4 linked regions of the Homo sapiens genome follow. The gene in region 1 interacts genetically with each later gene. Each region holds a gene or a part of one and is shown in the gene's direction. Other genes may lie near its edges.

Region 1 (7,853 bases):
CTTGCTCTGTCACCCAGGCTGGAGTGTAGTGGCACAATCTCAGCTCACTGCAAGCTCCGCCTCCCAGGTTCACGCCATTCTCCTGCCTCAGCCTCCCTAGTAGCTAGGACTACAGGCGCCCGCCACCACACCTGGCTAATTTTTTTTTTTTTTTTTTTTTTTTTTTTTTAGTAGTGATGGGGTTTCACCATGTTAGCCAGGATGGTCTCGATTTCCTGACCTCAGGATCTTCCCGCCTCAGCTTCCCAAAGTGCTGGGATTACAGGCGTGAGCCACCGTGCCCGGCCCCTGATGTGTTGGTTTTAAGGAAACACCCTTGTCTTCATAATACAGAGATAGAACTAGGAAGAAAAACAAGTTGTAAATTGTTGCCTTTTTTCTCCTGTGATGTGCCAGGCTCCATGCCAGCCCCTGAACATGGTAATGAGATGCAGAATATGTCTGCATAGTTTATGTGAATGTGAAAAAATGGCTTCACTGGATCAGGAAGTGAGTTTTCTGGCCTGGTGCGGTGGCTCATGCCTGTAATCCCAGCACTTTGGGGGGCCGAGGTGGGCAGATCGCCTGAGGTCAGGAGTTCGAGACCAGCCTGGCCAACATGGTGAAACCCTGTCTCTACTAAAAATACAAAAATTAGCTGGGTGTCGTGGCGCATGCCTGTAGTCCCAGCTACTCAGGAGGCTGAGGCAGGAGAATCGCTAGAACCAGGAGGTGGAGGTTGCAGTGAGCCGAGATCATGCCACTGCACTCCAGCCTGGGCAGGTGCAGTGGCGTGATCTCATGGTGCAGTTTCACCATGTTGGCCAGGCTGGTCTCAAACTCCTGACCTCAAGTGATCTGCCTGCCTCGACCTCCCAAAGTGCTGGGATTATAGTGTGAACTACTGTGCCCTGGCCTCCCTCAGCAGACTCTTGAGGCTGGTCCTGACAGAGCCTTAGTCTTTCCTTTGATCTCAAAATGGAGAAGAAACCTTGGGATTATTTAATCTGGCTCCTCTTGTGGTTATCTTTGAGAAGGCACCGTGGTCCTAGACTCTTTGCCCTCAATAGGACATCTGCTAAAAGCTTTTTAAAACTTATCATTAGCTGGGTGTGGTGGCACACACCTGTAGTCCCAGCTGTTCAGGAGGTTGAGGCAGGAGGATCACTTGAGTCCAGGAGGCTCAGTGAGGCTGCAGTGAGCTGTGACCACACCTGTGAATAACCAGTGCACTCCAGCCTGGGTAATGGAGTGAGACCCTGTCTCTCAGAAATAAATAAATAAATCTTTGCAGGGAGAACAGGGGAGACGATTCCTTTCTTAAATGCATCTCCTTGACGCCCACAGGCCCACCCACTCCCTGGCCCTCCATAGTCTCCTCCTGGGCCCAAATGTGAGGACAGTACAGCCTCAGCCAGGAGCCCTTCTGATTCCTTGTTCTCAGACTCCCATTGGAATACGATCTGGGGCCGTTCAGTCATTTGGAGTGGTTTTTCGTCACTTGACTTCTCGGAATGTGTTATCTCTTATTTTTATCTCTGGAAATTGTTGGTGTCCGTGGTCCCAGGATGCTGGAGGTGGAAATTCCTTGGGTTTCTTTCATTATACTTGCTCGGGCTGGCCCATCTGGTGAGTCTGCCAGCTGTGTGAACCCAGGTGCTGTTTGAAGCCCTTCCCCAGTAAACAAGTGCGTCAAGTCTGAGTGAGACACTTGGCACCGTCACACCGCTCTCCTTCCACATCCCCTCTTGTACGTTCTCCAGCGACACATCCCCAGGGTTGGACAGGGCACCCTCATATTGGCTTCAGGGACATAGGAGGGCCAGTCCTGACCCCACGTTGTGTGTGTGACTTTGGTCACGTGGCCCAACCTCTCTGAGTCTATCCCCCCTCCCCTCCTTTAAGGTAAAGACATGAAGTGCTTGTTGTGAAGATTAAATAAGCTAATAATGTCAAGTAAATGTTAGCTTTGCAGTAATCTTTCCTGTCCGCCACGTTACTGCTTTTTTCGAGACCCTTTTCTGGAGTTACTCCCAGCAAGCTGTTACTCAGACGTCCTGTTGGTTAATAAAGCTGTCCCTGCAGCAGTTCTGCTATTGTATAGACTCAGTCTTAAAATAGTGGGCTTGATGTGACATATTTCTTCATAATATTGTGTATGTGCAGCCTCTGTGTAATTGCATTATGCACCTTTATTGCATAGTTGAAGCAGTGGCAGGAAAGGATGCCATATGTGTTACTGGGAGATTATTCAGTGGGTATTTTTTCTCACTCTTCCGTTTCAGTACCAGTGAAGGACAAGAAACTTCTGGAGGTCAAACTGGGGGAGCTGCCAAGCTGGATCTTGATGCGGGACTTCAGTCCTAGTGGCATTTTCGGAGCGTTTCAAAGAGGTCAGAGCCTTGTGGATGTCTGTAAATGAAAGCAAATCTCTGGGTCTTCAGATCTCTTTTTTGCCATGAATTAATTTGGGCAATGAAGGCCTTGTTGTCTGAAAGCAGTAAGTTATGTAGAGGATGACAGGGAGGGATGCTAGGCCTTGGACTTCTGTGGTTGATTGGCCCTTTCAAAGGCTGGCTCTGAGATATTACAGCCAAGAACATGTTTCCTGTTGCTTGGAATCAGTATGTCTGCCTCTGTCTTAGAGAAATCCTAAGACTTCTTTAAGAGGAAAATGAATTGGAACCGTAGTGGGCATTAGTCTATAATATGATGCTCTCCTCCCTGCCAGAACTTCAGGACAAATATTTGAAATGGCCTATCTTGGCCTGGTGTGGTGGCTTATGCCTGTAATCCCGGCACTTCGGGAGGCCAAGGCTGGAGGATTGCTTGAGCCGAGTTTAGACCAGCCTAGGCAATATGGAGAGACCCCATCTCTATAAAAAAAACCACACAAGAAAAATTAGCTGGCTGTGGTGGTGCATGCCTGTAGTCCCAGCTACTCAGGAGGCTATAAGCTCACAGCCAAAGGGGAGAGGTGGAATCCAGGTAGGCCTAGTTCAGGAGCTGGTATGTGCTTATAGTTCAGGCTATGGGGATGAGAGACCTTACTGGCATTTGTGCTTGTCATCTTTATCAGCCAGTGAATGCAGGGCGAGGGGCTTAAACAGCCAGAGCAGGACTAGGTCCCTGAATGTCAGCCAGACTCAACTGTGTGCTCAACTTCACTCAAATGTGAAGCCCAGCAGGGCAGTGAGCGCCTCTTGCGTTTGCAGGTTACTACCGGTACTACAACAAGTACATCAATGTGAAGAAGGGGAGCATCTCGGGGATTACCATGGTGCTGGCATGCTACGTGCTCTTTAGCTACTCCTTTTCCTACAAGCATCTCAGTGAGTGCCTCTGCGGCGTCTTGCCTTTAGTTCCCATGAGAGGGTGGTGGTGACTGATTTCATTAGATACAGCAGCCCACCTTCTTCTGAGGCTGAGGGACCTTTAGTTAAAGTTCCTTATGTTTCCACCTAAAAGAATTGGAGGGACCTATCAGAGTACAGTATGTGGGATATTGTTTGAAATGAGAAAATTGTGACAAAGAGAACACAGGAAAATCAAGATGAAGCCAGGGTAAAGAGAGTACTTAGAAGCATTCTTTAAAATACAGCACACTGTGAAAATTTGGCTCGATTTTCCTAGTAGCCAATGCAGAAAGAGAAATGAGTTGAGTGGGATAATCTGGTACCCCAGAAAAGCATGGCTGTTCCGGCTCTGAGGCTTGAGAGGAGCTTGTCTGGTGGGAGATTGGCGGGAGGTGTCGGTGGCAGCCTCTGACTAGGCTGTTTCTGACAGTGTAGTGTACACCCCCTACCCCCACCTCACTCCCATTCTGTGGCACCAGGGCGGTCCTGCCTCTGAAGGACGGGTTCTCTGGGGCTGTTTGTCTGAGCGTGTGTTCCCTCTGTTCCTTCTGGAAAGAAAGTGGTTGGCCAGGTGGCAGGTTGGCTCCTGAGGTGTCTTTGTGCCCCCCGGGTCTGCTGATTCTGCAGAGACACCGGCAGGCGGGTCATGGGTCATCTCTGAAGGGAATTCTCAGGAAGGCTTTGTGTGATCTCAGCCTGCTTCCTGCCATGCTGTGCCTTCACTGTAACCTTTTAAGATACTTACCATCTTGCCTTCCTGACTTCAGAGCACGAGCGGCTCCGCAAATACCACTGAAGAGGACACACTCTGCACCCCCCCACCCCACGACCTTGGCCCGAGCCCCTCCGTGAGGAACACAATCTCAATCGTTGCTGAATCCTTTCATATCCTAATAGGAATTAACCTCCAAATAAAACATGACTGGTACGTGTGCTGATTGCCTGCCTGTCTGCCGTAGCCATTATCCCATGTTCCAGGGGCTCCTGTGGCACAAGGTGGGGGGAGGTCGTCTTTCCAGGCCGTTGACCGGTGAAGGCCTTTGTGGACTTCCCAGACCACCACTCTGGTCGTGTCCCAGCTCCCTGGAGGGCAGGGTGTCATCCAGACCTTCCCGAAGCAGCAGTGCCGAAGTCCGTCCCTTGCCATGAGTGCTGTGGGCAGGTGCATTTGCAGACATTCTGGCCTTTAGTTGGCTGGCCCTTTATGGTGTAACACAAAGGCTTGCGTACCTGAGAGCGCCAGATCCCACCCCGGCTGTCCTGTGGCTCCAGGCAGGGATGGCCCGCATCCTGTGTTTCTGCATCACCCTGGGGCATCAAGGGCTACAGGGTGAGGTGACCCGGCACTGTCTGGAGAGACCTCAGGCAGCACTCACGCCCAGGCTGCAGGGATTGTGGCCCTCCGGCTGAGGCGGCTTCTCTAACAGGAGGCTTAGTGGGTTGGGGGTGATGGGGAAAAGTGAGGGGCTATGGCGGCCCCTCCCTGCTTCCTCTTCATCAGAGCCTCATTGGGGGTGGGATACTGTGCCCCAGAAATAGGTGCCACCAGACATCTGAGCTGAGGTGGAGGACCTGCCTGCTGGCTCCACAGATCAGACTCCCAGACTTGACCAGCTGCTTGCAGGCCTTCTGGGCAGCTGCACTTCCCTTTGTGAGGCTGACATTTGTTGAAAGGGACAAGAAAGCTACGCCGTGATTGCAGCCAGTGTAAAAGGGTTGGCATGAGACCCTTAATTAATGAGACATGGCTTAAAAAACAAGCTTTAATCCATTTCATAAAAATTGTTCTTGCAATTGAACACAGCCAGGCCCACATGCCCAGCAGGTTGCAGGAGACAGTTTCACATTTTCCAGGCTCAGGACAGGGCAGTCTCCTCCACATGCCACAGGTGTCTGAGTGACAGTGTAGACGCCTGATGGGCAGGAGGTAGGCACAGATGATCTGAAGGGGTCATCTATTTAAAAGTCTGCAACTCCAGTTCAACGGACACCTTAAACACTGTCAGGCACGTACCCCAAGAGAAAATTAAGCCCAGAGAAGAAAACCTCAGGCTTGAGAGCCCTGTACCCCTCCTCAACCGCTGCCACCTGGGACCAGGGCCAGCCTGAGGCAATGGGGGCACCTGAATTTGCCCCAAAGGGCTCCCTCATTCAAATCACAGATATAGGCACAGCTTTAGGATTCAGCAGGGCAGGGAGGGAGGAAGCAGGCGTGAGCTGGCCACAGCTTTGAATGACCTACCAGCCCCTGGCGTCACCAAGAACTGGTGTTTAATGAGGGGAATGACCACCGCCACACAGAACTACCTAGCCAAGCCCCTCCCCAGCAGCTGCCTCCCTCCCTGGATGAGGGGAGTTGTGCCGGGAGTCCCAGAAAGGAGGCATCGATGCCCAGCCAAACATGATGTCGACTGCAGGGACCCACAGGACACATGTCCCTTTTTCAAAAAATACTAAGGCAAAATGATAGGAAACTAACAGACGTGGCCCCTCAGAGTGATGAAACCCACGTGTCTGCGGGCCAGCTCGAGCCACAGTCGCGCCAACAAGCGCATGAAACAGTTAAATGCACACTCCCAACAGCGGGGCCCCCGGGCTGCTCGGAGCTGGCTCCAGCTGCTGTCACTGTCCACTGAGAAAGGCCAAGTGCCCTTTGGTGCATCTGTTGGCGTAGTGTCCTTTCTCGCCACACTGGGAACAGCAGGAAGTGGGGGAAGAGGAGAGACAGACAACAACACTGTTCAAATGCAGTTTTCAACTAAGGGAGTGCCCACCAAATCCCAAATCATCCACCAAGTCCCCAGTCGGGACATGACTCTGAAATTCTCAGTGGTACAGAGTTTCTTTCAAATTAGAGGGTGAGGGAGCTCAGGATGGAAAGTGCAGTGGTGCAGAAACTAGCCAGCAACTCCGCAGATGCAAGGGAGAACAAGGCCGCCAGAAGGCGACCTGCTAGCGACCTGCTCTTTCAGGCCCACAACTCTCCCACCTGGACACATGGCCTGCCCAGGGAGGGACTCCCAAGTGGGTAGCAGGACAAAGAGAAGCCCGTGGCACCTGAGCTCCGCCACCCCGTCTGGGGACCAAGCCCTTCTGCACCACAGGCCAGTCACTTACCTCTGAGCCAAGGTCTGGGGTTCCCTGGCAGGAGATGGGAGGGAACAGCATCAGAAGTGTCCCAGCCTCCCCTCCCTTGGGGAGCCACTGCTGGGGACAGAGGGTGGGCTGTACCCAACGTTTTCCCTCGTGGCTGTGACACACCTAAGCTACCTTGGGGACAGGTTTTGATTACAGGATCAGAGAGATGGGACGATGCTTAGACTTGGGTAAGGGGAGCCTGCAGAGCCACATGACAAATCCAGCCCTGACCCTGCCTCATCCCAGTCCTGATTATCCAGGCCCTTCCATAGCTTCTCTTTACTCTATGACTCCTAAAACGGCAGCCTCAAGCACTGAACAAAAGGGTCAGGAGGCAGCTGGGGGCACTGACTCTGTACTGACACCCACCCCTGAGTCCCTGCTGCCCTGAGGGGCTCTGCCCAGTTGGCACCCAACACTCTTGCCAGCTCTATTCCCTGGCTCTGCAATTCCTGTTTTCTTTCTTCTATGTTGGCCAGGATGGTCTCGAACTCCTGACCTTGTGACCTGCTCCCCTCGGCCTCCCAAAGTGCTGGGATTACAGGCGTGAGCCACCGCACCCAGCTGTCCCTGTGTTTTCAACTTTGTCTGATCTGCAGGTGTGACTCTGTATGGAGAGGCTGCCGATGGGCTGTAGGGCTAACATGATGGCTGGGGGAGGGACCACACACCCTGCTCACGGCATCTGGCATGTCTGTCGGACCCCACAGCTGACTCTGGGGAATCCAGGACTTACATGAAGTGTCTCTGACATTAATGGGGTGACAGGCTGTGGACAGGGGCGGTCAGCCCTACCTTTCTAAGGCTCCAGGACTTAAGGGCGCTTGCTGCACAGAAGTGGCCCCGCTTAACAGGCCTGGAGGGTGGCAAGATAACAGCTAAGTCTGCTCTACACAGTGCCCCACTTCCATGCTCTTTTATTTTTTTGGAGACAAAGAGTCTCAGTCTGTTGCCCAGGCTGGAGTGCAGTGGTGCAGTCATAGCTCACTGCAGGCTTGACCTCCTGGGCCCAAGCAATCCTCCCATCTAAGCCTCCCCAGTAGCTGGGACTACAGGCGTGCACCACCACACCCAGCCTGTTTTGTGATTTTTAATCTGGACTCATTCTTCAGAACTCCAGCTGTAGGAATTGTGTGCGCCTTGGGTTGAGAACATACTCTTCAAAGAGTACTGGGGGTTACTCCTGCCACGTGCCAGGGACACACCAATCCTGGGGCGATTTTAGATTAGAAAACTTAGTTTGTAACTTTCCAGCCTTAACCAAGGACATGAATACAGGCCTAGACTCACATAAGGGCCCATTAATAACGTCAAACTATCAAGAGATTTTCCTCCCCTTTCCCCGCTTCCCACAGAGCCAGGAGTGAACAGGACAGTTTT
Region 2 (3,744 bases), on another chromosome or scaffold:
AAATGCTCTCCTTTGCAAAATAGCAGATGCTGCCTTCCATTAAGTTTTTCTTTGGAAATTTAAAGATACAAAGACAGGAAGTTTTGTCTTTCCCAGATGGTGCTTATGGTGCTTTCATACCTTTTTTTTTTTTAAGTCAGATTGAGTAACTGCTCATACATTTAGAGACTTGTCTTGCAAATTAATCAGTGTTGCAGGCAAGAATTGTTAAATTATTTTTCTCTAAGGCTTTTTGAGAAAGAAAATACAAAGAAAGAAGTGAAAAGCAATTGGGTGGGATTGCAAGGGCTGATGGATTTACAGATTTTCTTACCTGTATAAGAAAAATTTTATGAATTTTGTGGAGTTTGTGAGTTCTAGAATGGTTTTAGAGATATACATTTTGATTATTTTAAAGCATCAACTCAAAACTAGGAGGCTGGGCACAATAGCCCATGCCTGTAATCTCAGCATTTTGGGGGCTGAGGTGGGGGGATTGCTTGAGACCAGCCTGAGTAACGTAGTGAGACCCCATCTCTACAAAAAAAAAAAAAAAAAAAAATTAGCTGAGCATGGTGGTGGGTGCCTGTAGTCCCAGCTACTTGGGAGGCTCAGGTAGGAGGATTGTTTAAGCCCAGGAGGTCAAGACTGCAGTGAGCTCTGATTGTGCCACTGTACTCTAGCCTCAGTGACAGAGTGAGACTATCTTAAAAAAATTTTTTTAAAGTCTCAAACTAGGTTAAAAAGGATTACCCTGAAAAAGGTCTTGGTATATTATACATCTTTTCAATAAATAGATTAGGATGATTTGTGATTTGCCGTATCAGTGTTTACTGGCTACTTTTAAAACAGCCTTTTGGAGAGAGGGTTGGATGTAGTGTTACCTACACACACATGCCCACCCCTATTCCTCATGATAAAAAAGGTAGTCATTGTCCTTAAGGATGGTAGAAACAGGAAAATGTTCCCATCTATGTTTAAATGTTCTGATACTACGGCTTACCATTACATCTGGCTCAAATAAGGATAAACTATGTTTTCGTTCCTATAACAATTATTAATGCTTTCCTATAGAAAGCAATAAAGATTCTTAGACCTAAGTGTTTGGTAAAGATTGTCTTTAATAAAATTCTCTATTTCTCAATGGGCAAAAACTGCCCACTGTCACCTTTGGATTTTAGGATCCCAAACTCTCCTCTGAGCTCCGTTGTACCTTCCAGCAGAGCCTTATCTATTGGCTCCACCCTGCTTTGTCTTGGCTACCACTGTTCCCTCGTATTGGAGCTGATAGAAAAATGGCTGGAAAGACAAGTCCTTGGTCAAATGATGCAACCCTGCAGCATGTTTTAATGAGTGACTGGTAAGATTAGTAAGAGAAACTTGTATAATTCAATAGTGAATTTTATTTTAGCAGCATTCTCTATCATATTTGTGACTGGATACGTTAATGGCAGAAGGGTATCTAGATCCTTGTGAATTTTATCTGAACCTATTAATAACCAACATATAAACTGTTTACTTTTTTTTTTTTTAGCTGTTACTCATTCTTTACCCAATTGTGGTAGAATGTATATAAGTGTTGGTTAAATATATACAGACAGGCAGGCCGGGTGTGGTGGCTCACGCCTGTAATCCCAGCACTTTGGGAGGCCGAGGCAGGCGGATCACAAGGTCAGGAGATTGAGACCATCCTGGCTAACACGGTGAAACCCTGTCTCTACTAAAAATACAAAAAAAATTAGCCTGGTGTGGTGGCGGGTGCCTATAGTCACAGCTACTCGGGAGGCTGAGGCAGGAGAATGGCATGAACCTGGGAGGCAGAGCTTGCAGTGAGCCGAGATCGCGCCACTGCACTCCAGCCTGGGCGACAGAGCGAAACTCCGTCTCAAAAAAAAAAAAAAAGTATATATATATATATATATATATATATATATAAACACGCAGCCCTAATTCTTTAATGCTACTTCTTGTCAGTCTCTGCTTCCTTTTTTAGCAGCAGCTCAGAGAAAGTCAGCAGGCAATTCTCAATTAAGTTTTGTTTAAAGAAAAAATAAGTGTTTAAGTGGTATACACTATTTGTTAAAGTATTGAGAAGTCATCAGCGAGTCCTCATAACCAATTTCAGTCCTTTAAAGCTAAGTCATACGTAACCACAAAAATTAAAACCATTATCTAAAATATTTGTGTTGTGTTTTAAACCAGGTATCAAACTGAATTATTCAGAATTATAAACATTGCATTAAATGTTTAATAATACCTTAAGAAAATTTTTTTACTTCATAGGTCTGTGAGCTTTACTTCTCTATATAATTTGCTGAAGACAAAACTTTGCCCCTATTTCTACGTTTGTACCTATCAGTTTACTGTCCTGTTCCGAGCAGCAGGATTAGCTGGAAGTGACTTAATCACAGCTCTCATATCTCCAACAACTCGAGGTTTAAGAGAAGCTATGAGAAATGAAGGTAAAAGTTTAGGTTTAAAGTGAGAATACTATACTATATAGTAAACCTATTTTGGCCTAAAAGCTATTTAAATTTAAAATGCCTTTTACCAGTTGATTAGCAACATTAAGAAATATATTATTTCTTTATTTCTGGCTTTTTTTCCCTCCCCCACAATTATTTAATCCAGCAGTCCGCAAACTTTTTGGCACTAGGGATCAGTTTCATGGGCAGTGAGGAGGATGGTTTCGGGATGAAACTGTTACACATCAGATGATCATTCTTTTTTTTTTTTTTTTTTTTTTTTTGAGATGGAGACTCGCTCTGTCACCCAGGCTAGAATGCAGTGGTGCAATCTCGGCTCACTGCAAGCTCCGCCTCCTGGGTTCAGGCCATTCTCCTGCCTCAGCCTCCCGAGTAGCTGGGACTACAGGTGCCTGCAACCATGCCCGGCTAATTTTTTGTATTTTTAGTAGAGACGGGGTTTCACCGTGTTAGCCAGGACGATCTCGATCTCCTGACCTCGTGATCCGCCCGCCTCGGCCTCCCAAAGTGCTGGGCTTACAGGCGTGAGCCACCGCGCCCGGACAAGATCATCATTCTTATAAGGAGGGCACAACCTAGATGCCTCACATGCACAGTTCACAGTAGGATTCGTGCCCCTGTGAGAATCTAATGCGACCACTGATGTGACAGGAGATGGAGCTCAGGCAGTAATGTTCACTCGACAGTCGCTCACCTCCTGCTGTGCAGCCCGGTTTCTAACAGGCCACAGGCCAGTACCAGTCCACAGTCCAGGGGTTGGGGACTCCTGATTTAAACTGTTCCTTCCACATAGTGTTCTCTGATCTCTAAAATAAAACACATATTGGGCCAGATAGTCACTATCTGAATATACTCTTCTAGAAATTCTTCTATAGTACCAATTACCCCTTTAATAACAAAATTTTCAAACTGAGTAAACCCATTAGTGGATCATGAAATCTACTTAATGGGCCCAATCAGTACTTTTTCAAAAAGTGAACTGGAATACAATATGATTTATGAAAGAGTGTTACATGTATGTGTTGTTTCCCGAACCTCTTTCAAGGAGAATACGTTTTATGCATGTTTGTAGGTTTGTGAAGAAAGCTTGAAAACTCTACTGCCTTAATAGATCATTTGTAAAAACTAACATTTCAAATTTTTTACACTCTAAAAGTACAGCATGCCTGTTAAATACTTTAAATGACAACTCAGTTACATTTTTGTTCCTCATATAGGTATTGAATTTTCTCTGCCTTTAATAAAAGAAAGTGGCCATAAGAAGGAGACAGCATCTGGA
Region 3 (8,616 bases), on another chromosome or scaffold:
TTGGAAATGAGTGTATGTAAAATTATCCAAAATTATATTAAGACGTGATGCCCATCAAAACCTAGTAAAAATTATTCCCATGTTTAGAACATGTTCCTAGTTACCACAGGCAGGTTTCATGATCATTAATGAATACAGATGGGTGTGTAATCTGGGAACAGTATCCAAAGTGCATCTGAAACCACTCTTAGCACTTAGTAGAAACTTAGTAAATATTTGTTGAATATTTATTCATTTGAAGTGTAAAAGGAGACCCACCTAGTATATTAAAAATGCCTGGGCCGGGCGCGGTGGCTCACGCCTGTAATCCCAGCACTTTGGAATGCCAAGGCGGGCGGATCACGAGGTCAGGAGATCGAGGCCATCCTGGCTAACATGGGGAAACCCTGTCTCTACTAAAAATACAAAAAATTAGCCAGGCGTGGTGGCGGGCGCCTGTAGTCTTAGCTACTCAGGAGGCTGAGGCAGGAGAGTGGCGTGAACCCGGGAGGCGGAGCTTGCAGTGAGCAGAGATAGCCACTGCACTCCAGCCTGGGTGACAGAGCGAGACTCTGTCTCAAAAAAAAATAAATAAAAATAAAATAAAATAAAAATGCCTGTGTTGGCCTGGCATAGTGGTTCACGCCTGTAATCCCAACACTTTAGGAGGCCAAGGCTGGTAGATAGCTTGAGCCTAGGAGTTCAAGACCAGCCTGGGCAATGTGGTAAAACCCCATCTCTACAAAAAATACAAAAAGTAGCCAGGCATGGTGGTGTGAGCCTATAGTCCAAGCTACTTGGGAGGCTGAGGTGGGAGAATCACCTGAGTCTGGGAAGTTGAAGCTGCAGTGAGCCGTGATCATGCCTCTGCACTTCAGCCTGGGCGATGGGAGTGAGACCTTGTCTCAAAAAGAAAAAAAAAATTGTGTTATTTTGGGACATCTCTTTCTTTCCTTCTACTGTGCATGGATATCCCTATTGCTTCCATTTTTAGTAAAACAAATCTTTATGCTTTAAAGAACGTGGTGTTAAAAAGTGTGAGAAAGAAGCTGTGAAAAGTGGGAAAGCTTAGGCAAGGTGATATTATTTATCTGTGGCCTAAAGGTATGTAAAAAGGTCTATCTTATTTTATTATTATTATTATTTTTGAGACAGAATCTTGCTCTCTCGCCCAAGCTGGAGTGCAGTGGCAATTTCGGCTCACTGCAACCTCCACCTGCCAGGTTCAAGAGATTTTCATGCCTCAGCCTCCCGAGTAGCTGACACTATAGGTACGCACCACCACGCCCCCCTACTTTTTATATTTTTAGTAGAGACGGGGTTTCAGCATGTTGGCGAGGCTAGTCTCGAACTCCTGACCTCAGGTGATCCACCTGCCTTGGCCCCCCAAAGTGCTGGGATTACAGGCATAAGTGACTGTACCGGGCCTTATTATTTTTTTCAGATGGAGTCTTGCTCCGTTGCTGAGGCTGGAGGGCAGTGGCACCATCTTGGCTCACCTCTGCCTCCCAGGTTCAAGCAATTCTTCCACCTTAGCCTCCTCGCCCAGCTAATTTTTGTATTTTTAGTAGAGATGGGGTTTCACATGTTGACCAGGTCGGTCTCAAACTCCTGACCACAAGTGATCCGCCCGCCTCGGCCTCCCAAAGTGCTGAGATTACAGGTGTGAGCCACTGCACCCGGCCAAAAGACGTCTGGCTGTGTCAGAGAATCAAGAGTTGGTAACATCCAGGGAAGGCATTCAAGGCCTGAAGAGACAGCATTTGTGAAAGTGTAGAATAGCATTTCTAAACCTTGTTCTGTGAAACGCTGTTATACATTGATATGTTTAGTATTCCTACAGAAAACAATATTTATGGATGGAATAAGTTTGGGATATATTGTTACTAGATTCCTCCCTCTTGGAGAGTCATAATACACAAAGTACATAATTTAAAAGCTTTGGGAAGTCCTGTGATGAAACAGCAAGAAGAAAACCTCTTTAACTTGGTTGAATCTGGTGTTTCCTAGACTTTTTAAAAAAACTTAAAAATTTTAAATTGTGGTAAAATATACATGGTATAAATGATAAGTAAAATTTACCATTTTAACCATTTTTAAATGTGTAGTTCATTGGCATTACATACATTCATATTATGGTGCAACCGTCACCACTGTCCATTTCCATAACTTTTCCATCTTCCCAAACTGAAATGTACCCGTTAAATACTTTTTCCCCATTACTACCTTCCTCCAGCTCCTAGCAACTGCTGTTAGACTTTCTGTCAGTTTGACTGCTTTAGGTACCTCATAAATGGAATCATACGGTACTTGTCCTTTTGCGACTGGCTTATTTCACTTAGCGTAATGTTCTCAGGGCTCATCAATGTTGTAATGTGTCAGAATTTCCTGTGTTTGAAGGCTGAACAATATTCCATCGTTATATACCACATTTTGTTCACCCTCTACCATGTATTGTTAATCGCTACTTAGTATTGTGTTGTTTGTATGTGTCATGGCATATGTGTACTATTGTAGGTTCCTTTTAGATTTCCAGTATTACAAATTACTCTGAGATAAATATTTTACACAATTATCTCCTTAGAACAAATCCTAGAAGTAGGATTGCCCAGATAGTATTCATGTTTTATATTTTGGTAAATATTACCAAATTACCGTCTAAAAAGTCCCAGTTTTCATTCCTTCATATTGTGCATGAGAGTGCCCATTTCTCTGAACCCTTGCCAGAGTTAGATTTTTAAAAATCTTTTTGATCTGTGCACAACTGATCAGAGAGTACAATTTGTTTTTATCCGTGATATGTATGTCCTTGTCTTGGAAATCAAACATAGCTTCAAATGATAATTTGCTGCTCTTTGGGAGATTTTTTAAAATATTCTTTTGGGTTTTGAAAAGTAGTCTTGTTAGAATAAGTTGAATAGTGTTCCAAGGGGACAATTTTGAAGGGCACGTTGAAGAGATGCTCTTGTATTACGAAAAAAAGACAATCCTTTATTTATAATCACACACTTACACCTGGCACATTCATATATGACTTATCTCTACAACAAAATTGAATAGTCCTTGGAAGTTAGACAGCAACATTTATTGAACTCCTGCCATGTATAACAGCCTTTGTTGCCAGAAGGAATATGGTGTTATGAACCCTGTCCTTGTGGAACTTATAGTCTAAGTCTTTAAGTACATGTAATTGGAGGTAAAAAGTGACATACACAATAATATGTTTTCTGGGGCAGTCCTGTGGGAGTTCCATATCAGAGCTGGTAGGGAATAAATATTTTTTGAATGAATCATACAGATTCCTTAATGTATGAAGTCATAGTGTCCTAATAGAGAAGATATCTGCTGCTGTTGAGGCATTTGTTCTGGGAGGATAAAGCTGGGAAGTTGGTATGTGCCTTCAGAAGTGTTTGCCCATTCCTCTTATCTTCAGAAGTGATCTATTTCCCTAGAATAGATTTTATTGAGGGCACTTCAGTATACTTTTGTCACTTTGCCTTTTGCCATTTGACTTTTTGGTGCTAGAACACCTATTAAATATCTGATCACTTCTCGGCCTTTTGGCTAAGATCAAGTGTATTAAATGTGTGACTTCTCATTAAAGCCCTTGTTTTTGCAAGGGAGAACTATTCAGTATGAATTTGAAAGCACCTGCCTCTCTACTGGTGACTAGCTGCCTTCCTTTCATGCCAGGAAGATGGCTTATTGTGATTGCTGTAGAAGGATGTTTGCAGCTCTGATCTGTGATACTATGCTTCCACAAATACTCTCATTTATAAATAAATGTGTGGTGTATACATTTTTTATGGTTATAGAGAAGTTTGTATTTTTACAAGTGAAATTTAAATGCTCATTGTTAATTTCATATTTTTTTCTGATCAATATCCTTAAAATGGTAGATTGACACTAATACTTCAGGGACCAGATATCTCAGAAATTTGATGCTTAAAGGAATCCCATGGTATTAGGAGATGTACTCGGTCTGTATTAGGGTATTAACTTTTTGATTCAGGGATACCTTACTCACCTTTGCATTTCCCATTAGCCTCAGAGTAAAATAAGTACTCAAGGAATATATTAAGAGGAAAAAAGTGAAGATTAATGTAATTTGCTTGATTAGAGATGCTCCTCAGTTAAATTTCTTTTTAATCTCAGTATCTTTATTTTAAGACCCACTTTAAGACACATCAGCAGAATGATGTGTTTCCAGACAACAATTTTTAAAACCTTAGTTAACTGTAAGGATTTATTAGCTAGATTTCCTCTCTATGTTCCATTTCTAGAAGAAACAGATTACAAGAAAATCTGGTGTTATAAGTCCTTCTGAAAGTAAGTATCTTCTAGGACTGTTCCTGGAAACATAGTCAATCCAGCTTTCATATTCCTTGTACTTCTCAACAATTTTGCAGGGGCAGGGAAGTCACTCAGATGACTTGCAGTGTCCTCTATCACAAAGGAAGCACAGACTTATTTTATGTGCCACGAACTTACTAAGACAGATGGGATATTGACATATTTTAGGACTACTTTAAGCAAGAATTGATCATTGAAATTATTGATTTTTTATCATTATTATTAATAGCTAACATTTATTTAATTACATGCCATGTATTTTTTTGAGCATTTTACCTGCATTATCTCCTGAAGCTTCCATTTTATAAATGAAGGAAAAAAAAAAGGGAGGCTCAAAAAGGTAAAGTATTTTGACTGAGATCTTATAGCTAACGAGTAATAGGGCCAGGGTTTGAACCCTTTCTGTCTCTAGGGCCTAGTACCTAACCGTTGTCCTGCAATATTTTCTTTGTTGAGTATTTTCACTTAACTGAGAGGGTGCTATCTTGTTACTAGAACAAATATTATTACAGTGTTTTTTGTATGTTTTGTTTTGTTTTGTTTTTAGAAGACAGGGTCTCACTATGTCACCCAGGCTGGAGTGCAATGGTGCAATCATAGCTCACTGCAGCCTTGAATGCTGGGGCTCAAGTGATCCCCCCACTTCAGCCTCATGAGTAGCTATGACTACAGGCATGTCCCACCATGCTCAGCTAATTAAAAAATAATAATTATTATATATATATATTTTTGTAGAGATAGAGTTTTGATTGTGTTGCCCATGTTGGTCTTGAACTCCTGGACTCAAGCAGTCCTCCTGCCTCGGCCCCCCAAAGGGTTGAGAGTACAGGTGTGAATCACTGTGCCCGGCCTCATTACAGTTTTAACAGGACTGAGGAAGCAGTTTTTATAATTAAGTTTCTAAAATAAGAAGTTGATTGTATAGTAGGTAATTTTGATTATAAATTTTATTTTAAAAACACAGGCCAGGCATGGTGGCTCACGCCTGTAATCACAGCACTTTGGGAGGCCAAGGCGGGCGGATCAACTGAGGTCGGGAGTTTGAGACCAGCCTGACCAACATGGAGAAACCCCATTTCTACTAAAAATACAAAATTAGCTGGGCATGGTGGCGCATCCCTGTAATCCCAGCTACGCGGGAGGCTGAGGCCGGAGAATCTTGAACCTGGGAGGTGGAGGTTGCAGTGAGCCAAGATCACGCCACTGCACTCCAGCCTGGGCAACAAGCGCGATACCCTGTCTCAGAAAAAACACAACAACAACAACAACAAAAACACAATACTATCTTGACAGGAAAATATATTCATTGAGCAACATTAATTTGGTGGTACATCATTTTTATAAAACCCCTAGTAACTCTGAAAGCATTGTCTGTGCCCTTTTAAACACTTCACAATCATATGACAGGAGGGGAAATGTAAACTGATGAAATAGAGTTTTGTACTTTAGCACATCATTTGAGGAAAATACAACTTGTTCCCCCATGACCTTATAAAGTAATGAGAAGATTGCATGATAGTGAAGGGAGAAAGAAAGGAAAATATATTGTTTTAACAGTAGTTATGTGCTTCGAGTGGCCTGACTTGTAAGGAGTTGCTGTGATTTGTTTTGCAAGAGTGCAAGCCTTCCTTTCTGATTCTATAGAGATCTCATTGACTAGAGCTGCAGCCCCTAGTGCTTATAAGGATTTCCTTTCAGCTTAGACTAAATCCTTTTAAGCTCCACAGAACAGGGATAAATGTTGATTTTCAAGGTGGCATTTTACTACACTGAATGTGTCTGAAAAATGATTCAGTCATTTTCTGCCTTATTCTTAAATATTTGCTGTGTACATCATGTTTCTAGGTAGGTGAGCTCGTGAAACAATATGAAGAGGAGAAAATAGCCTTTTAAGGAAATTGGCCCACAGAAAGGATGGCCTTCTTGGACAATCCAACTATCATTCTAGCTCATATTCGACAGTCACATGTGACCAGTGATGACACGGGAATGTGTGAGATGGTTCTCATTGATCATGATGTTGACCTAGAGAAGATTCATCCTCCTTCAATGCCTGGAGACAGTGGGTCAGAAATTCAGGGAAGCAATGGTGAGACTCAGGGCTATGTATATGCCCAGTCAGTCGATATTACCTCAAGTTGGGACTTTGGTATTAGAAGACGCTCAAACACAGGTAAACATTGTGTTCTAGTCATGTCTTCTGAGCTTTAAATCAGTAAACAGTCTTATGGAATAATGCATAATATTGGAATAGGCTTAATGGGGGATGTTTCCGGGTATTAATAGGAACATGCATATGTCAGACTAAGAGTGAGTCTGAGCAACATCTCCATCTCTGCGACTGCGAATGGAGAGGGCCTCTAGAATATTATTAGAAGTAGACAGAAGGGGGATAGTGAAAAAGTTGGTTAGGAGAGACATGTTGGACATTTCTAACAAGTCATTGTGTAGAAAGGCAAGTGGACTGGCTTTGAGTGTCTTCACACAGCAACATTAGTCCCAGTAGGTAGACTACCCGGAGACAGATTTCAGGTTGACATAATAAAGAGCATTTAATACAGAGAGGTGACCACCCAAAGAGAGCAGGCACTTCTTGCCCCTGGAGGAATTGTGGGGGAGTGGGGAAATGGGAGGAGACACCTGAGTATTTGTTAGGGCTGGTTTTAGTAGGATTCTATACATAGGGTGTGAGATTAGAAAAGGGGCCCCTGTTTTTGATACTTCGCCTTTATTTTCTTAAATTGATCACCTTTTGATTTTTCTGGCTTGAAAACACTCAACTTTGGTATACACGTATTTAGTCATTAGCTTTAAAAGCTTATTGCCCATTTTCCCACTTATATTTTTTTGGTGGCCTTGTTTCAAGGGGAATGTGATGAACCAAGGACTTTTTTTTTTACTTAGACAAATTATTTAGAATACATATTGTAGTTCTAATATGACAGGTATTCTAGGAGGTAATTTTTTTTAGATAATCAGAAAATATAATCTTCAAATTAGCAGTAACCTGCTAACTCCCAGGAAAGGTAATGGCAAGGAGATATAGTAGAACACTGAAAATACTTACATATTTATTTTCATGGTCCAAATGTAAAACACACATAAAGGAATATTGGAGGTAGAGCTGGATACAATTTACTGTGAAAGGCACATTCAAGTTTTGGTTCAGAATTCAGTATCTGTGACATAAGAATAATTTGCTCTCATGATGAAAATAATTAATAGCATTTCCCAGTATCTAAAGGAACTTTTGTCAAAATAGGATTTGAGTGAAGGTTTGAATATAATTTAGAACCATTGATTTTCAGTTCTCTAGTTGAAACTGACTTCCTTGCAGGTTATTGAGATGATATCTTATATGACAGGTTGAATGTATTTCAGTGGGAGAATGCTGCTAAATTGAGAGCTTTATGATTATATTACTTTGGCTGTACCCTTCACATTTATTAATTGCAATTGAATGTAGTTTTCTTCAGTGTTGGTTAGATATAGTGACATTGTCAGAATGCTCTTCCCAGCATAGTTTAAATTTCTGGTAAGATTATTTTCAGTGTTTCCCTACCACAATGCTAAGGCAGAAGTGTATAATTTCCTATCTTGAAAGAGGCGGAAAAAGAGATGTATTTATTTTCTATTAGCAAAATGCTGGGATAGGAAGCTGAAGATTAGCAAGAGAAAACTGATTTCAAGAGATGGCATCAATTGTGACTTTCTTTTTTATTGTGGTCTCTGTATGCGGCAGTTGTTAAGTGCATGCTGGGTGGTATTTCTCTAAAGGATCAGTTCACTGATTTTTGAAGGTTGATCAGCCAGTGGCAATATAATCACAAATGCATAATTTTAGGTGACTCTTGTTGGAATTTCTTTAGGTAGCACTTAGATGCTAATAATTAATTGAGATTGTAGGTTGTCTTAGTGACCAAAGAATTTACTTTTTAATCCATGCAGCATATCTTAAAATTTTGTAAAAGAAAAATTGTTCTTTTTAAGATTTGACTAATGTTACAAAGATACAAATCATTTATTTTACTACCTATAAACTGTTTCAGCCCACTGAAGAAAAGCTATGCTAATTTATATAGCTTTGACATTTTATAATTTTCATGATTTTTAGATAAAGGATTTTATATTTAAAACTTTAATAGTCTAGTCTGAGTTCATTTATCTTTAATTTTTGAAATGGGTAGAGTAATTCATAACAGTAATTTTATTCCTGTAATGTAATATTCACTTCAGTTCATTTGTGCATTAAAATTCCTTTAAGACCGTTATTAATGATTTATA
Region 4 (8,616 bases), on another chromosome or scaffold:
ATATCTTATGCAGGTTATTTTAATATTGTTTTCCCCTGCCTTCTTCAGTCTACCATTCATACTTTTATTTTATTTTATTTTATTTTATTTTATTTTTTTTTTGAGACGGAGTCTCGCTCTGTCGCCCAGGCTGGAGTGCAGTGGCGCAATCTCGGCTCACTGCAAGCTCCGCCTCCCGGGTTCACGCCATTCTCCTGCCTCAGCCTCCCAAGTAGCTGGGACTACAGGCGCCTGCCACTACGCCCGGCTAATTTTTTGTATTTTTAGTAGAGACGGGGTTTCACCGTTTTAGCCGGGATGGTCTCGATCTCCTGACCTCGTGATCCGCCCGCCTCGGCCTCCCAAAGTGCTGGGATTACAGGCGTGAGCCACCGTGCCCGGCCTCATACTTTTATTAAAACGTTTATTTAACGTGAACATTCAGATTTTAACTTCTTTCCTTAGATGTTTTCAGTGACTTTCCATTGAATTGAAGGACCAAAATGTTGTCCTTGTTTCTTGCATTTATGTTCAGGTTTATTTCCTTTCTTTCCAAGCTTTGTAGGAACTGTACATTCCAGCCCCTCAGACTACTTAGTTTTTTCTTTAATAAGTCATGCTAAAGGCCAGGTGTGGTGGCTCACGCCTGTAATCCCAGCACTTTGGGAGGCCAAGGCAGGCAGATCACACGAGGTCAGGAGATCAAGACCGTCCTGGCTAACATGGTGAAACCCTGTCTCTACTAAAAATACAAAAAATTAGTCGGGCGTGGTGGCGGGTGCCTGTAGTCCCAGCTACTCAGGAGGCTGAGGCAGGGGAATGGCATGAACCGGGGAGGCGGAGCTTGCAGTGAGCCGAGATTGCACCACTGCACTCCAGATTGGGCGACAGAGCGAGACTCCGTCTCAGAAAAAAAAAAAAAAAAAAAAAAGTCATGCTAAAGACAGACCTAGAGTCACATCCTTATTCAAAGCAGTAAGCATGACCTTGCTTTTGTTCATGAAGTTCTTTCTCTTTGAAATTGTTCTCTTTCATCATCACATATTGAATAAAAAATGTGACTTAATCGACTTACTCTGTTTTTTTAAAAATTCTCCATATAGTTTAACTTGAATCTGTATACTCCAGATGTATTCTGTTCTTCATTCATTTAACAAATATTTATTGATTGCCGACCACATGCCAGGTCTAGCCCTGCTACATGCTGGGGTATATTGCAGTAACCTATATAAGATATTATATAGGTGAGCAAGGTAGAACCCAGTCCCGACTCTCATGACCATTCTCAGTCATATATAGATGTAGATGAACCCAGAGATTAATCTCATCCTATGTTTAGCCTGATGTTTTAACACATTTGTTCCTTCCTGGCACATTGATAGTGGCCAAGACCAATTTTTCTTGTATTTTTGAACCCTTCCTTTCCTACCTTTAGACCTGTTTCATCACTTCCTCTGTATCTGTAATGTAGCAGTCCCTCCACAGGGCTTGTTTTCCAAAGAAAAGTAAGCCCTCCACAGGGCTTGTTTTCCAAAGAAAAGTATCATTTGGAGGAGCAAAGTTATAAGCCTACCTAAGCATGTCGTAAAGCTGTTCAAAAATAACTCAGAGCTAGTCTTGTGGATGGAAATGTAGTGCCTGAGTCACATTCTGCTTAAAGTTGTAACAAATACAGATGAGTTAAAAGAAAAAAAACAAAAATAAAGAAAGAATGGGTCTTCATTCTGTCAGGTGGTCTCATTGTTCCTAGACAAGATCAAGCTAATTCTTCCCGTTAAACTTTTCATGTTGAACCCACTTTGTTCCCTAGAACATTTGAATTTTACCTTTCTTATGTTCATTAGACCTTGCTATTCAAAGTATGATCCATGTCCAGTAAGATGAGCAATGTTGGCTACACTTGAGTTTGTTAGAAATGCAGACATACGTATCACAGAATCTCAGGCCCCTCTCCTGACCTACACAATCAGGTGATTTATAGCATTTTACTGTTTGAGAAGAAGCTTGCTCTCTTCCTTTCTCTGAGCTTTTTAATGACAGCTTGTATCATTCACCTTGGTATGTGATCCATACTGTTAGTGATTTACTGTTAATATATTTTCCCCTTCTCATTGAGATGATAACCCTTTTGAAGGCTGAAGTATAAAACATTTGTCTCCTCCATAATTCAGTGCTTGAAACCCATTGCTATTGAAATTTCTTACCTTTTAAATTTTGTTTTCCCCTTTAAGTTATCTTATTAGATACCTTATTCCCCTGGTTTTGTAAGTAAGGTAGAGTATGTTATTAATAAATAGAAAAGTATGAGTTACATATACAGTCAGCTCTCTATATCTTTGGATTCTGAATCCAGCAATCTCACATCCATGGATTCAACCAACCATGGATCGAAAATACTAGGAAAAAAACAACTAAAAATACAAATAAAAACCAATACAGTATAATAATTATTTACATAGCATTTACATTGTATTAAATGTTATATGCAATCTAGGGATGATATATAGGAAGATGTGCCTAGGTTATATGCAATAACTAATGCTACACCATTTTATATAAAGGACTTGAGCATCTGCGAATTTTGGTATCCAGTTTGGTCCTTGTTTCTGTCTGAAACTCTTTTTACTTGTTGCTTATTTCTTCACACTAGAATATCAGCTTCCTGAAAGTGGCACCCATGTCAGGTTTGTTCACTACAGTATTTCTAAGGGTCTAGAACAGTACCTCGTGTATAGAAGGCACTCAGATGTTGTGAATGAATGAATATACTCCTGTTGTGTGGAAATTTTCTTGAAAATCAATCATGAAGAAACTGGGTTAGTAAATGCTTGAGTGTTGGTGAGAAAAGAGCACACAGTTGAGGATAAGCTAGTTAGCTTTCTGGGCTTGTTCATATTTCTCCATCTTTTTATTTGTTGATTTCTTATCTGTTTGAAAAATCACTAATATTAATTGGACACCTATTATAAGACCCTGTACAGGGATGTTTGGTTAAATTTTGTGTTGTTTGGTTAAATTTTTTGTTAAATTTTAGATGTTGTGATCCTCACAACAGCTTTGGGGATAAATGTTATCACTACCTTACCTACCTGATGGTTATTCAAATCTAATGGAAAAATTTTGGTGGAAGTACTTTGTTTTTTATTTTGTTTTGTTTTGTTTTTGTTTTTTTTTTTGTTTTTGAGACAGAGTTTTGCTCTTGTTGCCCAGGCTGGAGTGCAATGGCATGATCTTGGCCCACTGCAACCTCTGCCTCCCAGGTTCAAGTGGATCTTGGCTCACTGCAACCTCCGCCTCCCAGGTTCAAGCGATTCTCGTGTCTCAGCCTCCCAAGTAGCTGGGATTACAGGCATGCGCCACCACGCCTGGCTAATTTTTTGTATTTATAGTAGAGACGGGGTTTCACCATGTTGGTCAGGATGGTCTCGAACTCCTGGTCTCAGGTGACCCACCCACCTTGGCCTCCCAAAATGTTGGGATTACAGGTGTGAGCCACCGCAGCAGGCTGGTGGGAATGCTTTGTGAGTTGAATCAAATACTTCGAATTTGTAATGCCAGGCTATCACATGTGTCACTGTAGATTTTTTGTGATACTCTTATGAATTTAAAGAGACTGGACAACAGCTTGTTTAAATTCCATTGAAATGGAAGCTCTTCTCTGAGATCCTGGTCTGAAGTATAATACAGTTTGGCCTTTTAATGTTTTAACAACAAAAAAAATTATATGACCCTTGGCCTCTTCTTCCAGTTTTCTGACTTGAGTGGTGCATACGTAAGTTGTTTGACATGTGAGATAATTTTTTCAGTCAGATAATTTGAAATCCTTTCAAGCACCAAAACTTGCACATTTTAGCTATTTTAATTATATGTGTTTCTGAAGTGTAATACATAATTTTCTGCTGCTTTAGTCAGAGAACATGGAACACAATCTAACCATGTTTTGATGGCATAGTATTATCATTAAGAACATGTTATTGGGCCGTGCTCCCGCCTGTAATCCCAGCACTTTGGCAGGCTGAGGTGGGCGGATCACCTGAGGTCAGGAGTTCGAGACCAACCTGGCCAACATGGCGAAACCCCATCTCTACTAAAAATACAAAAGAAATTAGCCGGGCATGATGGCGGATGCCTGTAATCCCAGTTACTCAGGAGGCTGAGGCAGGAGAACTGCTTGAACCTGGGAGGCAGAGGTTGCAGTGAGCCGAGATCACACCACTGCACTCCAACCTGGACGACAGGCAGAGACTCTGTCTCAAAAAAAACAAAAAAACAAAAAAACATGTTATTGAACCAGACAGGACAGTAGATCTGTCAAGAAATCCCTTCGGGTAGTCTGTTATTTCTATAATAAATGTCCCCTGTTGTTGAACTTTAGGTGCCTTGAGTGGTTTATGTTTCTAGTTGGTGCCTTTTTTGGTTGTTAAATTTATCTGTTTCTTATCCCCTTGCTTTTCAGGTTTTTTTTTGCTGTGAGTGAAAAACCAGTTATGCAGGATTATCTCTAACCTGAGTATTTGTGAGTGAGGATTAAATTCGTTATGCAGTCTGACATTTTGATTGCTTAGTTATATTTTTTGCTTAGGCAAGTAAGATGTTATTGCTTACAAATAGTAACTTTTTATAATAGAAAAATCATTTAGCGTACATTATTATATCTTGGTAGCTCCAGGAACTGGGCGGACTAGTATTATCTGGATTATACATGTGATTCTCCCACTCCAAGAAGCTGGGTGGCTTTTCAAAGACATAAAGTGAATATATCCTGGAGCTTGAATTCAGATCACATCTAGCCATCCTTGACTCATTTTCTTTTACATTTTATAGCAGCTTCATATACTTGAAGACCCCAGTAGTTATTCTGTGTTATGTGACAGGTACTGTTTTAAGTATTGTGTATTTATTATGGCATTGAAGCAATACAACAACTCTTTGATATAGGAACCATCATTATCCCTATTTTATCAATGGGGAGACGTGGGTACAAATAGTTTATGTGATTTGATTAATGTACAGATGGAGGAAATAGAAGTTAAGGTGTGTACAGAATAGTTAATCTAGTGCTTCTTGTTTGAGCATTGGGAAATATGTTTTTCAGAACTCAGGTGTCTTACAGACTTCTAACTTTAAAATGTATGAGAAAACATACATTAGAATCTTTACGTTTGATAATCAGTCATATTGTAGAAGATTTGTAGCTATAAGAAGTCAATTTAGTAAATATTCTGAAGTTTGGAAAAATGCAACCTTAAACTGCTGAGTTCACATATTAAGATACTGGGGATCAATAGTAAAGAAAATCAGCATATTAAGGAGCATTGGGAAGAGTACTGGTACGTGTCCCTAAGTAAGTTAGTTTACCTGCATTGGGTGGTAATTCTAAGTCCATCTGACTTTTCCTTTTTTTTTTTTCCTTTGAGACAGAGTCTTGCTCTGTCGACCGGGCTGGGGTGCAGTGGCCCGATCTTGGCTCACTGTGATCTCCACCTCCTAGGTTCAAGCGATTCTCGTGCCCCTCAGCCTCCCGAGTAGCTGTGTGCCACCATGCCCTGCTAATTTTTGTATTTTTAGTAGAGACGGGGTGTTGCCATGTTGGCCAGACTGGTCTTGAACTCCCGGCCTCAAGCAATCCACCCGCCCCAGCCTCCCAAAGTGCTGAGATTATAGGGATGAGACACCACACTGGGCCAGACTTTTCCGTTTTTATGTTCCTCCCAAGATTTGGATAAACCTGCAAACATCCTGGGCCATTGGTCCTTTCTGTTAAGGTCAGACACCTTATTGAAATTCATTGCCATTTGCTTTTTGACAGTGCTTACTGTGTTCGTGACATATATGCTAGTGATGACAATCTATCATTTGTTTCTTGTAGCTGTCTTCTTGGGTATTATTTAAGGCAGCATATGCAGTACTTCTCATGGAGGAGATGACTTAATAAATCAGTTATGATCTCTAGGCCTTAGTTTGATATGAAGATAGTGAATGGCCTTCCTACTGTAATAAAGAGAACCTGAATGGGTAATTTCTTACATTGTTGATATGATTTTTAGTAGTAGATATTGATTTTAATAGTTGGTAATAGTTACTGTTGGATTCCAAACTGGATGGTTTCCCAAGTAAATGGAATATGATCAAAATATTTTAACTTTAGTTGTTACAGCAAATCTGGCCTGGATTTATATGGTTAATGCCTCACATATCTATTTAACATTAAAAGGTGTGGGTGTACAATAAGCATTTTTTATCTTTTGCCTTCTTGTCACCTTTTGCTTCAACTGGTTTCTGTATATGATAAATTTGGATCTTTTGTTCAATATCTTGGACTTCATTGGTTTGGCTGAGCAACTCCAGGTATTTTAAGTCTTGGCAGCAATGCTCTGGACTTGCAGCTCAGTCCTAGCCCATACCTTGGAGAAAAAAGCCTCTACAAAGCATGAAGTTTGAAAAGAATCTTTGCAAGTTCTTATTTTTGTGTTTAGATTTTCTTTTACTTCATCAAGTCTACCATAGGTCGTTTCTTAGATAAAAGCTCCTAATTTTAGCACTTACAGAAAACTTAGTTGCATTTGCTTTCTTTTCAAAATTAGTTTATAATGTTTTTCGTAAAATATTTAATTTACGGTACTTGGATGTTATTTTATTTGGCAAGGTTTTAGATAATATCTTAAAGAGAATATGGCTTCGTTTTTTGTAAACTACTACTGGTAGGTAGATCATTCTTTAAAATGGCTATATGCAGTAAAGATTAGGTTTAATAGCAAAGTGTAGTGTAATTTACTTAGCTGTTTGATGACAAACTGTACTTGTTTCATCAAAACTGAAAGGGCTGAAGTGGATGCTTAAATATGCTGGAGTAATATGCCATATTCTTGTTAATGTTGGTACCATGCTCAAGCATATAAGAGAAAAATTGGATTCAGGAAAAACAGTGATAACTCAGTATTAACTTAGTCAAAATATATATATTTTTAATCCTTTGAGTCTTTGACCCTTTAAACATCAGCTGCATTTTGGCATAAAATTTTAAGATTTTCTTTGCCTCCAAAATAGTACCTAAAGTGGTACTTAAGTGCCACAGATGTTTATTGTATCTTGAGGCTTACTGTTTGTTTTTTTTTTTTTTAATACTTTCTATGTTTCCACCTCTCCCTGTCGCCATCTGATTTTATTTCCTGTCCATTAGTGATAACCACTGTCTACCCAAGTCATGAAGGCTTCTGGTATCGTCTTTGACTATTTCTTGAGGTTTTTCCTAAGATCACTTACTTAGTTCTTTGAATTTATAACTACATTGTCTGTACTGTTCAGTTCTTGCACTCTTTCTCAACTATCACCAAAGCCTGTATAACTGGTCTTACAGACTTTATTTTGTACTTGGACAGTGCTGCTGACTAAGTTATCTTCTCAATGGACAGCTGTAGTCCTAAAACTCAACCCTTTGGAAAATCACTATTACACACAAAATAAAATCAAACTTTATTTCCCAACTTATTTATATATGTGTGTGTGTGTGTGTGTGTGTGTGTGTGTGTGTGTGTTTATATATATATATATATATATATATATATGTATGTATTTTTGAGACAGGGTATCGCTCTGTCGCCCAGGCTGGAGTGCAGTGGTGCGATCTCGGCTCGCTGCAGCCTCCACCTCTGGGGCTCAAGTGATCCTCCCACCTTAGCCTCCCTAGTAGCTGGGACCATAATGGGTGCATGTTACCACACCTAGCTAATTTTTGTTTTTGTTTTGTATTTTTAGTAGAGATGGGGTTTCGCCATGTTGACCAGGCTAGTCTTGAACTCCTGGCCTCAAGTGATCCGCCTGCCTCAGCCTCCCAAAGTACTGGGATTATAGGCATGAGCCACTGTGCCTGGCCTATTATTTTTTGAGACAGGATCTTGCTCTGTTGCCCAGGCTGGAGTGTAGTGGTGCAGTCATGGCTCACCACAGCTTCCCACTCCTGGGCTTGAGTGATCCTCCTCCTCAGCCTTCTAGTAGCTGGGACTATAGGTGTGTGCAACCTTGCCTGGCTAATTTTTTTATTTTTCTTTTGTAGAGATGGGGCCTCTATATTGACCAGGCTGGTTTTGAACTCCTGGCCTTAAGGTGATCCCCCTGCCTTGGCCTCCCAAAGCGCTAGTATTACAGGTGTGAGCCACCACCACCTGGCCTTGCCTGCCAGCTTTTGTTTTCATCCTCCAAACGAGGGCTTGTAGATGGTGTTTTCAAGTGTGGTTTACTGGTAGCCTTTAAAACAAAATAAAAAGTATTTCCTTTTGGAGAGAAGAAAACTCCCATTTTACATTTTACACAGAAATGCATCAGCTTTGGTTTCATTCTAAAGGACCTCTTGACTAGAAAGATGATGAATAACCACCTTGTGGACTTACTGTGGTGCGCTTTTTATACAGGAAAATGGGAACCCTTTTAATTTATTAAACCTGTTTAAACACAGCCATTACACTGGATAATACATGCATATGGCACACAAATCAAAGACAAAGTGAAAGTATATAGTGAAGAGAAACTCTCACTGTCATCCCTGTCTTCCAAGCACCCTCTTCCCAGAGGCAATCATAGTTGCTTTATACATGTTTCCTTCTGCACTTACCTTAGCAAGGAGGCAGAAACAAATTATAA

The links.
Region 2: changes in ATP5MF (region 1) and DONSON together harm fitness less than expected from each alone (positive genetic interaction), as found in Homo sapiens cells (one large-scale study listed by BioGRID).
Region 3: changes in ATP5MF (region 1) and MAPKAP1 together harm fitness more than expected from each alone (negative genetic interaction), as found in Homo sapiens cells (one large-scale study listed by BioGRID).
Region 4: changes in ATP5MF (region 1) and EIF3H together harm fitness more than expected from each alone (negative genetic interaction), as found in Homo sapiens cells (one large-scale study listed by BioGRID).

What each region holds. Positions count from the first base shown.
Region 1 is NC_000007.14:99,454,605-99,462,457, reverse strand, and holds the end of ATP5MF (ATP synthase F(0) complex subunit f, mitochondrial), read left to right. Parts: intron 1-2,264; coding exon 2,265-2,372; intron 2,373-3,194; coding exon 3,195-3,311; intron 3,312-4,102; coding exon 4,103-4,131; 3' UTR 4,132-4,263; downstream 4,264-7,853. Other genes in the region: CPSF4 (cleavage and polyadenylation specificity factor subunit 4), read right to left, coding at 5,958-6,026; ATP5MF-PTCD1 (ATP5J2-PTCD1 fusion protein), read left to right, coding at 2,265-2,372. UniProt on the Homo sapiens protein: Subunit f, of the mitochondrial membrane ATP synthase complex (F(1)F(0) ATP synthase or Complex V) that produces ATP from ADP in the presence of a proton gradient across the membrane which is generated by electron transport complexes of the respiratory chain.
Region 2 is NC_000021.9:33,582,185-33,585,928, reverse strand, and holds part of DONSON (protein downstream neighbor of Son), read left to right. Parts: intron 1-1,160; coding exon 1,161-1,339; intron 1,340-2,262; coding exon 2,263-2,441; intron 2,442-3,682; coding exon 3,683-3,744. UniProt on the Homo sapiens protein: Replisome component that maintains genome stability by protecting stalled or damaged replication forks.
Region 3 is NC_000009.12:125,670,205-125,678,820, reverse strand, and holds part of MAPKAP1 (target of rapamycin complex 2 subunit MAPKAP1), read left to right. Parts: intron 1-3,523; exon of another isoform or gene 3,524-3,667; intron 3,668-6,177; 5' UTR 6,178-6,246; coding exon 6,247-6,505; intron 6,506-8,616. UniProt on the Homo sapiens protein: Component of the mechanistic target of rapamycin complex 2 (mTORC2), which transduces signals from growth factors to pathways involved in proliferation, cytoskeletal organization, lipogenesis and anabolic output.
Region 4 is NC_000008.11:116,742,698-116,751,313, reverse strand, and holds part of EIF3H (eukaryotic translation initiation factor 3 subunit H), read left to right. Parts: intron 1-4,187; exon of another isoform or gene 4,188-8,616.